4 linked regions of the Homo sapiens genome follow. The protein of the gene in region 4 purifies or fractionates together with the protein of the main gene of each other region. This does not show direct contact. Each region holds a gene or a part of one and is shown on either strand. Other genes may lie near its edges.

What was found. The genes of interacting proteins can lie anywhere in the genome.
Region 1: the proteins of SLC7A9 (region 4) and TTC17 purify together in Homo sapiens (affinity purification with mass spectrometry; one large-scale study listed by BioGRID and IntAct). This does not show direct contact.
Region 2: the proteins of SLC7A9 (region 4) and SHROOM1 purify together in Homo sapiens (affinity purification with mass spectrometry; one large-scale study listed by BioGRID and IntAct). This does not show direct contact.
Region 3: the proteins of SLC7A9 (region 4) and ROBO1 purify together in Homo sapiens (affinity purification with mass spectrometry; one large-scale study listed by BioGRID and IntAct). This does not show direct contact.

What each region holds. Positions count from the first base shown.
Region 1 is NC_000011.10:43,365,420-43,368,919, forward strand, and holds part of TTC17 (tetratricopeptide repeat protein 17 isoform 1 precursor), read left to right. Parts: intron 1-3,500. UniProt on the Homo sapiens protein: Plays a role in primary ciliogenesis by modulating actin polymerization.
Region 2 is NC_000005.10:132,824,645-132,827,647, forward strand, and holds part of SHROOM1 (protein Shroom1), read right to left. Parts: exon of another isoform or gene 2,964-3,003; 5' UTR 2,817-2,963; exon of another isoform or gene 1,944-2,816; 5' UTR 1,633-1,943; exon of another isoform or gene 1,539-1,632; 5' UTR 1,497-1,538; coding exon 519-1,496; intron 430-518; coding exon 374-429; intron 178-373; coding exon 1-177. UniProt on the Homo sapiens protein: May be involved in the assembly of microtubule arrays during cell elongation.
Region 3 is NC_000003.12:78,596,739-78,599,868, forward strand, and holds the end of ROBO1 (roundabout homolog 1 isoform a precursor), read right to left. Parts: intron 2,190-3,130; coding exon 2,175-2,189; 3' UTR 501-2,174; downstream 1-500. UniProt on the Homo sapiens protein: Receptor for SLIT1 and SLIT2 that mediates cellular responses to molecular guidance cues in cellular migration, including axonal navigation at the ventral midline of the neural tube and projection of axons to different regions during neuronal development.
Region 4 is NC_000019.10:32,831,768-32,835,267, forward strand, and holds part of SLC7A9 (B(0,+)-type amino acid transporter 1), read right to left. Parts: intron 1,557-3,500; coding exon 1,382-1,556; intron 1-1,381. UniProt on the Homo sapiens protein: Associates with SLC3A1 to form a functional transporter complex that mediates the electrogenic exchange between cationic amino acids and neutral amino acids, with a stoichiometry of 1:1.

The DNA of each region.
Region 1 (3,500 bases), on a different chromosome or scaffold from region 4:
CACCACACCCAGCTAATTTTTGTATTTTTTGTAGAGACGGGGTTTTGCCATGTCACCCAGGCTGATCTTGATCTCCTGAGCTGAAGCAATCACCTGCCTTGGCCTCCCAAAGTGCTGGGATTACAGGCATGAGCCGCCATGCCTGGCCAGCTCATCTCCTTCTTAACTTTGTTGTTTTTGTTTTTGTTTCTTTGCCCTTGCTCTTTTTCATACTCACCCTTTAGATAAGTAGTTCTCAAACTTTACCTTGTACAAAAATAATTGGGGAATTGGGAGTTGCTTGCTTAAAATGCAGATTTCCAAGACACCCAGAGTATCTGATTCAGTAGGTTGGTGGTAAAGCGAAGGATTCTACATTTTTATCAAACTCCTTGGGAGAGTATAATGCAGGTAGACCACACATAGTCTAAGAAATTCAGTTTTAGATATTGCCATCCTTCCAGCTTCTGTTCCAGTTTTTTTAAACTCTGTACATACACCTGAGCATCAGTTACCATATGTATGCTGAGAGTATCTGCATTCCTTTTGTAACTTAGTTTTTTTCTCCAGAGTTGTAGATTTAAGACCTTTTTTTTTTTTTGAGATGGAGTCTTGCTCTGTCGCCAGGCTGTAGTGCAGTGGCGCAATCTCGGCTCACTACAACCTCCGCCTCCCAGGTTCAAGCAATTTTTCTGCCTCAGCCTCCCGAGTAGCTGGGACTAGTTCACGTCAGAAATCTAGTTGTCTTTAATTCCTTAGTCTCCCTTAGCCATCACCAAGATCTTTGTTTTACTAATTATATTTTACTTCTTCCCATAGCTACTATCATTACTCTAATTCAGGCCACCTTATTATTGCCGCAGCTTCCTGTTCTTCTCCTTTGTTTTATTTAATTAAAAATTTTGAAACCATCCTGGGCAACATGGTAAAACCCCATCTCTACTAAAATACCAAAAAATTAGCCGGGCATGGTGGTGCGCACCTGTAATCAAAGCTACTCGGGAGGCTGAGGTGGGAGAATCGCTTGAGCCCGGGAGGTGGAGGTTGTAGTGACCCAAGATAGTGCCACTGTACTCCAGCTTGCGTGACAGAGTGAGACTCTGCCTCAAAAAAAAAAAAAAAATTGAATTCAGAAATAATGCATGGCATTGTAAAAATAAACATCCACCATGCCAGCATGGGAATATTTAATAAAGTGAAATCCCTCCACCTCTATGCACTCTCACTCCCCAGGGAAAGCTACCTTTAATAGTTTGGTGCATATCCCAGGATATGGTCCAAACTCTTTCTATTGACAAGGTTTTGGTGGCAGGGAGGGAGACAGATTCTCGAACATATCTTATGTGACCTGGCCCTTCCTCTCTAGCCTTATCTCGGGTCATCCTTGAGTACCCCACCCTAACCCTAGAGTAACACACACAGCCATACTGACTTAGCTTTTGTGAGCATCCCCAAATATGCCGTGTTCTCACTTCTTCTGGGCCTTTGCATATGTTGTTCTTCCCCCAACACTCGAGTCTAGCTGAGTCATACTCGTCATAATATAAACATCATTTTCTCAGTGAAGCTTCTGGTATGCCCAAATTTGAATAAGCTGTTCTATGTGCTTCCATAGCATCCTGAATTCCTTTATGAAAGGATCTACCATACTGTGTTGGGCCTACCTACTTAGGTAAATGCCACACTAGACATTTCTCAATGAATCCTTATAGTATTCAGTAATATTTTAGTCATCTGGGGACTAAGCCTAAAAGAAGCCTCAGACTTCCATGTCTTTAAAGCTTTGAGTCACGCATTATTGAATCAGCCCGTAGGCCCTCAGAAAAGGTGCACAGTAGATGAGAAGAGCCATAATTTCAGAGATCATTCCTGCTTACCTACTGTAGTCATGTTGTGTTATGCAAGGGAAATCATCCTCGCTGTCTTTGTACCAGTTTAGATATCTAAAAGGTCAACTTTAATGCGCAGGCATCAAAAAGCAAAAAGTATGGGGCAACAAGAGACAATGAAAAAGATAAGCAGAAGAAAATAATCAGAAAAAACAGAGGCGTGGTAGATGAGAAATGGCAGCTGCACTGTTGAGGAGGGATTAGAACCAGCTGTGGGGTTCAGCAGTTGTTGCAGTTTAGAAGTCACTCTGGTGAAAGTAAACAGAAGGCGCTCTGATAGTGAAGAATAAATAAGAGGGCTCACGAGCTGCTCACGTCAAAAATTAGAACAACTTTGCATTCCAAAATGTTAAGGAGCAGGGTGTAAGCTAAAACCTGCGTCTCAGCTGTACTCCTTGATAGCAGAAGTGAAAACAAGGGGAATGTCTGTGTGTGTGTGTGTGTGTGTGTGTGTGTGTGTCTCTTTTACAGACAGACACCCTAAAAGAGTTATCTGTGCTCGTGGAGTCTCCTCTCTCTTCCTTTTTTAAGCCCCCTCCAATTCATCCTTCATCCCTATAACTCTTGTCAAGATACCCAGAGCCTATGCTCAGTTCTCACTAATCTTAAGTTCTTAGCAGCCCAGCATTTGTCTTCATATCTTACTCAGCTATTTTCTTACATGCTTACCTAAAAGAGTGGCTGACACATAGTATACACTGAGGAAACACTGAGTAAGGGAGAGAGAATGTGTGCAACTAAGCAACTTTTTACACCTGTAATAGCTCTTACATGCATTAGCATACAGAAGAGCCAACACGTATTCCTGGTTTTTCTTCTCAGTCCCTGGCCCTGACTTCTCATTTTCTTCTGCTGAATTCACCTTTTCTTGATGAGTCTTAGGTGTTGGTGTGCCCCTTTTCTTCCCTCTGTACATATGTTCACCAGATGATCTTTTGCAGTCTCGGGGCATAAAGTACCATTTATATTCTAAAGACTCTCAAATCTTACGTGCAGTTTCAACTTCTTCCTGAACTTCAGACTCATATATCCAACTGCCTACTGAACATCACCATTTAGTTGTCATCACAAATACATCATGTCCTAAACTAAACTCTTGATTTTCTACCCCACCACACCTGATCTTCCCCCATTCACAAAATTGCCCAGGTCCAAAATTTTGGTATCTTCTTGACTCTTTCTCATATCTCAAACCCAACGTAGTAATAACTTGTCAGCCCTACTTCCAGAATGTTTCCTGAATCCAGCCATGTCTTTCCACCTCCATTTCTGTAATTCCAGTCAATACTGTCTTCATCTCTTTGCAGAACCTATGCAGTGGCTTCCTACCTGGTCTCCTTGCTTCTACTTTTGTCCCCTAGATCTGTTATCTCCAGAGCAGCCAAAGTAATCTCTTAAAAAGCACAGCTGGTCATGTCACTCCCTTTGGGATAGGAGGGAAACAAAGAACATCAGAAAATCTTCAGTAGTTTCCCATCATACTTAGATTAAAATCTGGAGTTTTCCTTATGGCCTACAAGGTCCTGTAAGATCTAGAACCTGGCACCTGTCTTCTCCTCCAGCCTCAGACACCACTTTCTTTCTTGTGTGGTGTGGTGTGCTCTGCCTCAGCCATACCAGCCCTCGGGATGT
Region 2 (3,003 bases), on a different chromosome or scaffold from region 4:
TCTGGTGGTGATCTCATTCTGACCAGTGGGGCCTCTTCTAGGAACACTTCATCAGGAAGGGAGGGGAGCCAGGCAGGCACAATGCAGGTCTCTGAGACCCTCTGTTCACTGTCAGCAGGGCTGCTCTGGGGTAACTCTGCAGGATACATCACCGCAGCCTCTTTCTGAGGCAAGAACCTGGAGGCAGGGACCCCATAGTGACCACAGTGAAAGGAAGGAAGCTCTTGGTGTTGCACCAGGGAGACAGTAGGGTATTTTCAAAATAACCAGAAGGCTCAGACTGAGGGTAGGTAGGAAGCCCTTTCATTTTTTGGGCAAAAGCTATGCAAGCTGCTTCCCCCCAACTTGGTCCAGAGTGGTCCGTGTCTCTCACCTGGAAAGTTTGGTCTGAAACAATGGTCTGGGGGTTTCTGCTCCTTGGGGAACAGCCTGGAAGGGTGAACAGTCGACTGAAATGTGGCTCAAGTTTTGTTTCCCAGATGCTCCCCTCACCAGCCTGCATCTCCTGACTTCCATACCTGGACAATGGGTATGGTCCCTCCTGATCCTCCCCAGGAACCCAAGACTTCGCCTGAAGCGCTCCGACTCCGACTGGCGGGCCTGAAGGCATCACCGAGCTTCAAGGACCCGGAGTCCAGGTTCATGGAGCCTTGGGGTTGCGTCTCGGGCAGCCATCCGACCTCGTGATCTTCAAACTTAGCCAGCGCCGGATGCTGGAACTCCAAGGGCTCGGGCCCAGGGAGGCCAGAGCTGGAGCAGGCCTCACCCAGGCATTCCCGCGCCGGCCCACCGCCCCGACCCACACGATCCAGCTTTCCTGGCTCTGAGAAGCACCACTTCCGCTGCTGGTTGGCGAGGGGACCCCGGCCGGCAGTTCCTGGCGCGGGAGCCCGGGAGCGCGCCGGCTCCCCCTCCCCGCCCGGGTGGCTGAGCGAGGCGGAGCGCGGGTGAGTCGCCGGGGGCCGCGCTGGGACAGTGGGCCGCAGACGGGCGGGCAGGCTCATGCGGAGCTCCTTGCGCTGGAACGACGTCTCCCGGAGCACTCGCCGCTGCGCGCCCTGAAGCCGCTGGCGGTAGGCGGCCCTCGAGGCCGGCGGGCTGGGCGGCTCGGCAGCCTGCGCCGCGGCCTCCGCCTCGGCCGCCAGCGCGTACAGCAGCGGGGTGGCCTGCCTGTTCAGTGGTCCCGGGGTCCCCGGGACCTCTGTTGGCTGCGGCCCACTGCGGGCTGCAACCGCGGGCCGGGGCCGCGGGGATGTGCAAAGGGCAGCGTCGGGCGGGGCGGGGCCCGGGCCGCCCCAAACCACACGCACGTAGTCCCAGTCTAGGTAAGGAAGGAGGTCTGTCCCCGGCGACTGCGTGCGCGGCTCGGGGCCGCCGGAGGCTGCGGAGAAAGAGCTGTAGGCCGAGTCCGCGCGCATGGACAGATGCCACAGGTCCAGGCTGCTAGTGGACGAGGCCGGGGAGGCGCGGTCGCCCCCAGGTCCCAGGGCCTCCATGGCTGCGCAGATGAGTGCTGAGGCTGGGTGGCTGCGTGGGTCCTGGGAAAACACAGATGTGGTGCCGGGTGAGGAGCTCCGGGTGAGGGCTGGGACAGCCTGCTGGCCCCGCCACCACGGACGGCCAGACACTTACACTTCCCCTCCCTGGTCACACCGTCACAAGCGCTGGCATCCCCCAGATTTTGGCAGAGTCACCTTGGGATCAGAGGTGGCAGAGGAAGTAGGACCAGTCCCAGGGAGCACCTCTGAAGGTTGAGGGCCCAGCTCAGGGGAAGGAATTGGGACCAGCTCATTCCCTGCCAGGCTCCCCTTGCCCACACAAGCAGCCTTTACCCTGAGACCTCCTGGAACGCTGAGAATGTACCCATGTTCCTTTCCTCCCCAACCCTGTTCCACCCAGGCTGCTTCCTGGCCGTTCTGTTGGCTTCTCCATGTGATCTTTCCCTGATAAACAATGGTCAAGAACACTCTTGTGACCTCAGGGGAGCTAAGAAAGGAGGGGTGGGGGAAGACCCAGGGCAAGGGGCAGAGGCAGCTTCACAGCCTTCCTCCCTCCCTCTGTGCCTGTTATGTTCCAGGTGCTTTATATAAATATTTATTTTGATCGTTGCAACTGCTGTCTGCATTTTACAGACAAGGACAATGAGGTTCTGAGAGGGAAATGATTTGTCCAGGGCCACACAGCTGGGACGTGGCAGAAGCCTGCCTGGAATCCAGGCCTGCCTCCACGCTCACTGCAGCCAGAATCAATTTCCTAGAAGCAAGCCCTGCTGAAAGGCAGTTTACCATCCCTCCTGTTCCCCAACAGCCTGAATCCTCCAAGGAAGCCCACACTCCACTATGGGAAAGTCACCCCTACCTCCCCATACACTATTGGCAGATTCCAAAATAATCTGGCCCCCACTTCTCAAACTCTGCCTTTCGTCTAGGAATGATGGGCCGACCCCCATCTTTGCCCTGCTTCTATTCTTGCTTCTCCTGTAGGACTCAGCTTAGAGGTCTCCTCACTTTTTGGGACTCCTACAGTGTGCTGAGCTGACCCCCACCCCACACTGTCCCTGTTGGCTTGCTTCTGATTCCCTCCTCCCATTCCCACCCCTGAGCTTCCTGAGAATGGGCCCTGCTCTTCCTCATTGCTGCACTCTCAGTGCCCAGCAGAGTCCCTGGCATACAGTCAATGTTAAATATTTGGGCCGGGTGCAGTGGCTCACGCCTGTAATCCCAGCACTTTGGGAGGCCGAGGTGGGCGGATCACTAGGTAAAGAGATCAAGAGCATCCTGGCCAACATCGTGAAACCCCATCTCTACTAAAAATACCAAAAATTAGCTGGGCGTGGTGGCACACGCCTGTAGTCCCAGCTACTCGGGAGGCTGAGGCAGAAGAATCGCTTGAACCCGGGAGGCGGAAGTTGTAGTGAGCCGAGATCGCGCCACTGCACTCCAGCCTGGCGACAAAGTGAGGCTCTGTCTCAAAACAAAACAAAACAAAACAAAACAAAACAAA
Region 3 (3,130 bases), on a different chromosome or scaffold from region 4:
CTTTAATAATGTATAACCTGGTATATGATAGGTATTGTTAAAATTTTACGTGAATTCGTAACAAGAAAGCAGATAGTTACTGATAAGCATTTCAGAGTTATATAATTAATTTTCTTGCTGACAGAACATAGGTGGCTCAAACTTTACAAATCACATTTATCTAGTTGAATCCCAATTATTTTAGAAATAGATGAAATAGATTAACTGAAACTCAGATACACATACATAAACAAAAATAATATACCCTTAATATTAAAGAAGACTTAGTCTCTGATCCAATTATTCACTTCTAGGTCTTGACTGATCTTACATTTTTAATTTCAGAGGACTTAGGTAAAATTTTGCTTACAGTAAAGCCTGGTTATTCATACAACTAATTGAGAATTTTCACTCATCTGATAATACAGGGGTGAAATGTTAAGACAGAACGACTTTGTGATTAAATGGAATAAATTTGATCAGCACACAATGAAAAAAGAAATCAACACAAGAAAGAAAGATGTATTTGAGAACATTTTTAATAAATAATGTGACAAAATTACTTTTCTGATTATTGGATTTTCAGTATGCAAAATTATGGCTAAAAATAAGGGGCTTCTTACATGAACATAATGAAAACATTAATCACATGGATTGTTCCCTTAGTACTGCACGCCTTTTCTATGGAACTTTTTCAAATTATCTAAATGAACAAGTTTGGTTTTGGTGAACACCAGCCTTTTTTTTTGTGGTTCAGTTTTGTTTGGCTTTGTTTTCCACTGGGGTCAGACCTGATACTTATCTATCTATGAATAAATGTACATTTTTTTCTTCAAATAGCACCAATTATAAAATCAATGATATTCATAAAATGACAAAAAAGGATCATAGAAATCTACTAGTCAGAGGGCATCATTTGTCAATTGAAAGCAAGTAATGCCTCTATTAGAGATTTTAAGGAAATCTTGTAGGTTTCGACATTGGCCACAACAAACTTAAACCTCTTTTTTTCTTTAAGTCCAGGAAAAGTAAGAACCATTTGGTTCATGGCCCACAATAAAGTATGCATGTTACTTCACCATCTGTCATTATTCAAATATTCCAAATACAAACATAGAGCATTAACAAAACAGGTTAAAAACGCTTCTCAACATTTTTTTTTTCAATAAGACAAAAAAGGTTAATAGTTACAATGGTTTACAAATAAAGTTTAGTGATTGTGCTTTTAAAACCAAAAAAAAAAAAAAAAAGAGAGAGAGATTAAAAACAGTGCATTACAAAAACAAAAATCAAACTTCCTTAAGTGGCACTTCTGAAAGTTGAACTGACACTACCAGAAGAAATTTAGGCCAGTTAAGACAGGGATGTTCTTACTCAATTGGTCATTAAAAACATCCACTTGTTTGTAATACGTATTTATAATTACTTTTTGATGATTGAAAAATAGAACAAGGTTTTACTAGGTTTACTTATGACAATGACTAGACAACCAGAGATCCAACTGGCTTAGCCCTACTTATCCAAAAGTACATTTCCAATAAGAATATACTTCAATGATTGAAATGAAGCCAAAATAAAATACCACCAGGGTTTGCAAAGAGTAAATATTTACAATGTTTCTACCCCATTCGAATTGTTTGTGGTTCTGCATTTGCTATATTTTTAGTTTCTTCCAGCAAAGGGTAGTATGAAAAACTGATTTTGAAATCATGTTAAAATGAAATATGTTTTAATTTGCATTAGCAGTTGGCTATAGAAAGATTATACTTTGAGAGCCCTTGTGAGGTTGAATATCAACTTTCTATATTTGATCAATATCTTGCTATAAATTAGCTTGGCATATAAGCAGTGCAATGCCATATCTCAGCGGCAAAATGCAAAAGAACAGTTTTGTTCCCTCTTGCTGGCTGATGACTGAAGCAAGAAGTCAAAGCACTTTGCTTGCTGGAAGTAAGGTATAATGGTTTGCTCCAACAGCGAGGGGAATAGGAAGGCTCTTTGTAGGGTTAGGGATCAAACAACAACAATAAAAACCCAATAAAGTTTTTAAAATGATATCCCAATAAGAGGAATAAAAACGACAATTTGTACACTCTGATTGCACTGAACATTTTATCTGGCGTCATGTGTCATCTGACAGGAGGCATCTTGAGTGATGATTTTCACATTAGATCTCATAAGCCTCTTGGTTGTCTTCAGCTTTCAGTTTCCTGTAAGAGATACGTTATTGTCACATTTGAAAATAAATCTTAAGAGGATTGTGTTATATTTATTTATATGCATTTATTATTATTATAATTTAATGTGTCTTTTCATTTATTCAATGGACTATGTTGGAAAGGGCTCATGTCAACTAATTCATTCATCAACCTTAATTGGTCTTCACAGCAAATTCAACAAGTACCAAACTGGGTTCTGCACAGTGCCCCGGTGTTGCGTGGTGGGACACAGGGCTCTGAGAAGCGGGAAGGAATGTGTTGAGTTATCTAATCCCCTCAGCCCCAAGTCAACATTACAACTCTGCTTTTGTTGGTTTTAAATACTGGAGTTAACAGTAAGGCCATTCTGTTCCCCCAAAAGGCTACTTCTATTTTAAAATAAACTAAGACCTGAAAAACAACTTCTCTGTTTGCAGGAGGAAAGTCTTTCTCATTCTAAACCTCAAAATCGAAATACATTGAGCTTTATAGGACTTTCAATTAGACATAATGGCCTATACCTTTTCAGCTTCTACTATAAAAAGTTGTCATTTGACACGTATTTATCTACTTGAGTTTAACTATATTTATTAAAAAATTTTCCTCAACTTTTATTAAATTGAGAAAATACAATCTTTGAATGGGTGAGGGGAGAATTTATGATATGTCAAGGCTAACAAGAGAGTATATCTTTGACGTAAGAAGTTTCCTCCAACTGGGGAGGTCAGTGTCACAGACTAGGCATACACTTTCAGAAGTGTAAAGGTGAAGGACAGTTAGCCAAACCAGCCACATTACCCTGGTGCTGACTATGGCAACTTCCTCACTCACATCATATAACTCTGTCATCTTACTGGGTTTTTATAGCCTGCTACAATGCTATGAATTATAATAGCTCTAGATCAACAGCTCTTACTTCTTAACAATGTGTTTGCCATATATGTTTCTTATCT
Region 4 (3,500 bases):
TGGGCCCCAGCCCAGTTCCCCAGGCCAAGGCCATGACTTTTTGTGTGTCTTTGCAATGCTGCTAGGCCTCTTAGATGATGTCTGCATATCAGACAAAGGAGAATGGTGTTTCAGGATGAGACGCATGATGGTGGGAATATGCCTAATGCTACTGAACTTTACACTGACAAGTGGCTGAGATAGAAACGTTTATGTTGTGTGTCTTTCGCAATTAAAAAGAAAATGGGGCTGGGCGCAGTGGCTCATGCCTGTAATCCCTACATTTCGGGAGACTGATGCAGGTGGATCACCTGAGGTCAGGAGTTCAAGACCAGCCTGGCCAACATGATGAAACCCCGACTCTACTAAAAATACAAAACAACAACAAGGAAATTAGCCGGGTGTGGTGGCAGGCGCCTGTAATCCCAACTACTCAGGAGGCTGAGGCAGGAAAATCGCTTGAACGTGGGAGGCAGAGGTTGCAGTGAGCCGAGATCGTGCCAGTGCATTCCAGCCTGGACAACAAGAGCAAAACTCCATCTCAAAACAAAGAAAATGGGCCGGGCGCAGTGGCTGACATCTGTAATCCCAGCACTTTGGGAGGCCGAGGTGGGTGGATCACCTAAGGTCAGGAGTTGGAGACCAGCCTGGCCAACATGGTAAAACCTCATCTGTACTAAAAATACAAAAATTAGCTGGGCGTGGTGGTGCACACCTGTAATCCCAGCTACTCGGAAGGCTGAGGCACAAGAATCGCTTGAACCGGGAGGTGGAGGTTGCACAGTGAGCTGAGACCGCACCACTGCACTCCAGCCTGGGCAACAGAGTGAGACTGTGTCTCAAAAAAAAAAAAAAAAAGAAAGAAAGAAAGAAAAAGAAAAACGGCCAGGTACGGTGGCTTAGGCCAGTAGTCCCAGCACTTTGGAGAGCCAAGGTGGAAGGGTCATTTGAGCCCAGGAGTTCAAGACCAGTCTGGGCCACCTAGCGAGACTCCTTCTCTACAAAAAGTAAAAAAAATAGCCAGGTGTAGTGTGTGCCTGTGGTCCCAGCTACTTGGGAGGCCCAGGTGGGAGGATGGCTTGAGCCCGGGAGTTCAAGACTGCAGTGAGCTATGACCATGCCACTGCACTTTAGCCTGGGCAACAGAGCAAGACTGTGTCTCCAAAAAGAAAAGAAAATGGTGCTTTCCCTTCCTACTTATTACAGTAATTGACAGGAACAAAACAATCAAGGGTGGACCCAGAGGTGTACAGTGAGGGCGTGGGCATGTGTCCTCCTGGGACGAGGGAGATCTGCCAGCAGGGTGAGACACTGTGACAGAGGTCTTGGAGTCAGGACAGGTGAGGACGCCGTGCCTGCCTGCACCTCACAGAGGCCAAGCGGCCCTTCTGTTGGTACTTACTTGAGATTTTCTGAGCCCATCCAAACTTGTAGTGGACAAACAGGAAGTAAAATAAAAGGCCGCTTAATATAAACAGCACACAGTAGAGGTACTCCCAGGTGGGCTTGCTGATGATTGGAGCCAGAACCAAAAACACAGAGATGAGTGTCATCAAGACGGGAATGACTACGGGCACCTGGAGACGAAAAACAGGTCATGGGTACCCATTTTCTTTTTGAAATTTTTCATGATAAAAAACCGATTTTTATAAAAAGAGTATGAACTCCATGTACCCCCTCCTCCAATTTCAATCATTTTAATGTAATTTTGCCAATCTTATTTCATCTATACCTTTTAAAAATTTTCTTTACTTTTTAAAAAGTTTTTTGGCCGGGCATGGGTGCTCACACCTGTAATCCCAGCACTTAGGGAGGCCGAGGCCGGTGGGTCCCTTGAGGTCAGGAGCTCAAGACCAGCCTGGCCAACATAGTGAAACACCATCTCTACCAAAAACACAAAAGTTAGCTGGGCGTGGTGGCAGGTGCCTGTAATCCCAGCTCCTCAGGAGCTGAGGCAGGAGAGTCGCTTGAACCCAGGAGGCAGAGGTTGCAGTGAGCCGAGATTGCACCATTGCACTCTAGCCTGGGCCACGGGAGGGAAACTCCATCTCAAAAAAGAAAAAAAAAAATAGATAAACTGTTTAATGTTTTAGCATCCACTGATGATCGTTGCCTTCATTGTTTCATCAGGGTTTGCAAAATGGTGATTTTTCTAATTTGTAATTTCTTCCTCAATTATCTGAAATGCTATATGAAGTACTTCAACTTTCTGGTTATTCTGAATTGCAGTTCATACAGGAAAGGCAGGATTAGTGCTGTATTCTGTGTGTTTCCAGAATGACAAGTTGGGCCCCTGAGACCTCCAAAGGCAACTCCAGCCTGTGGGTTTTTCTATACATGGTGAGTTTCAACCCGTTGTAGTCATTGTTCACGTTGTTCAGAAGGTCCTGTGCGGGGCGGCAGGAACCCCTCACACTGTCCTGGGCCCTGGGAATGGGACGCCAGTGCTCTTCAAAAGCCTCTTTGTTTTCTGGGTGACAAGAAGTGCCATACCTGGGTTTTCATTTATCTCTCCAGAGCCAGACGTGGGTTTTCATCCATTTCTCCAGAGAGCTTTGTTTCCTTTTAGCAGGAAATGGCATTTAAAGACCATAACCTGGAGGCTGGCTGCAGTGGTTCGCTCCTGTAATCCCAGCACTTTGGGAGGCTGAGGCAGGCAGATCACTTGAGTCTAGGAGTTCAAGATCAGCCTGGCCAACATGGTGAAACCCCGTCTCTACTAAAAATACAAAAATTAGCCGGGCGTGATGGCAGATGCCTGTAATCCCAGCAACTTGGGAAGCTGAAGCAGGAGAGTCGCTTGAACCCGGGAGGCGGAGGCTGCAGTGAGCAAAGAATGTGCCACTGCACTCCAGCCCAGGAGACAGAGTGAGACTCTAAAAATAAATAAAGACCATAACCTGGGTGATTGGAGTACTCATTATCCTTTTTCAAGGACAGAGATTAATTTTGGTATTCTCTTATTAGGAACAAAGTTAAGTTTGCTGGGATTGTTTTGTTTTCATTTTTAAGTGTCATTGCATTTTTCCTTTGACTGTGTTTTTTTGTTTGTTTTGTTTCCCAAGACAGAGTCTCGCTCTGTCGCTCAGGCTGGAGTGCAGTGGCGTGATCTTGGCTCACTGCAACCTCTGCCTCTTGGGTTCAAACAGTTCTCCTGCCTCAGCCTCCCAAGTAGCTGGGATTACAGGCGTGTGCCAACATGCCCAGCTAATTTTTTATTTTTAGTAGAGACAGGGTTTCACCACGTTGGCCAGGCTGGTCTCGAACTCCTGACCTCAAATGATCTGCCCATCTTGGCCTCCCAGAGCGCTGGGATTACAGGCATGAGCCAATCACACCCAGCCCCTGAATTAAACTTTTAATTAATGGATTTTCGGTCTTCAGCTACCTTTGCATAGGCTGGACCTAGTCATGATATATTATCTTTTTAGTGTAACTGGGTTCTGTTTGTTAACATTTTATTTTAGATTTTTTATATCGTTATTCCTAAGTGAGATTGGTGAGTACATTTCCCTTTTTTG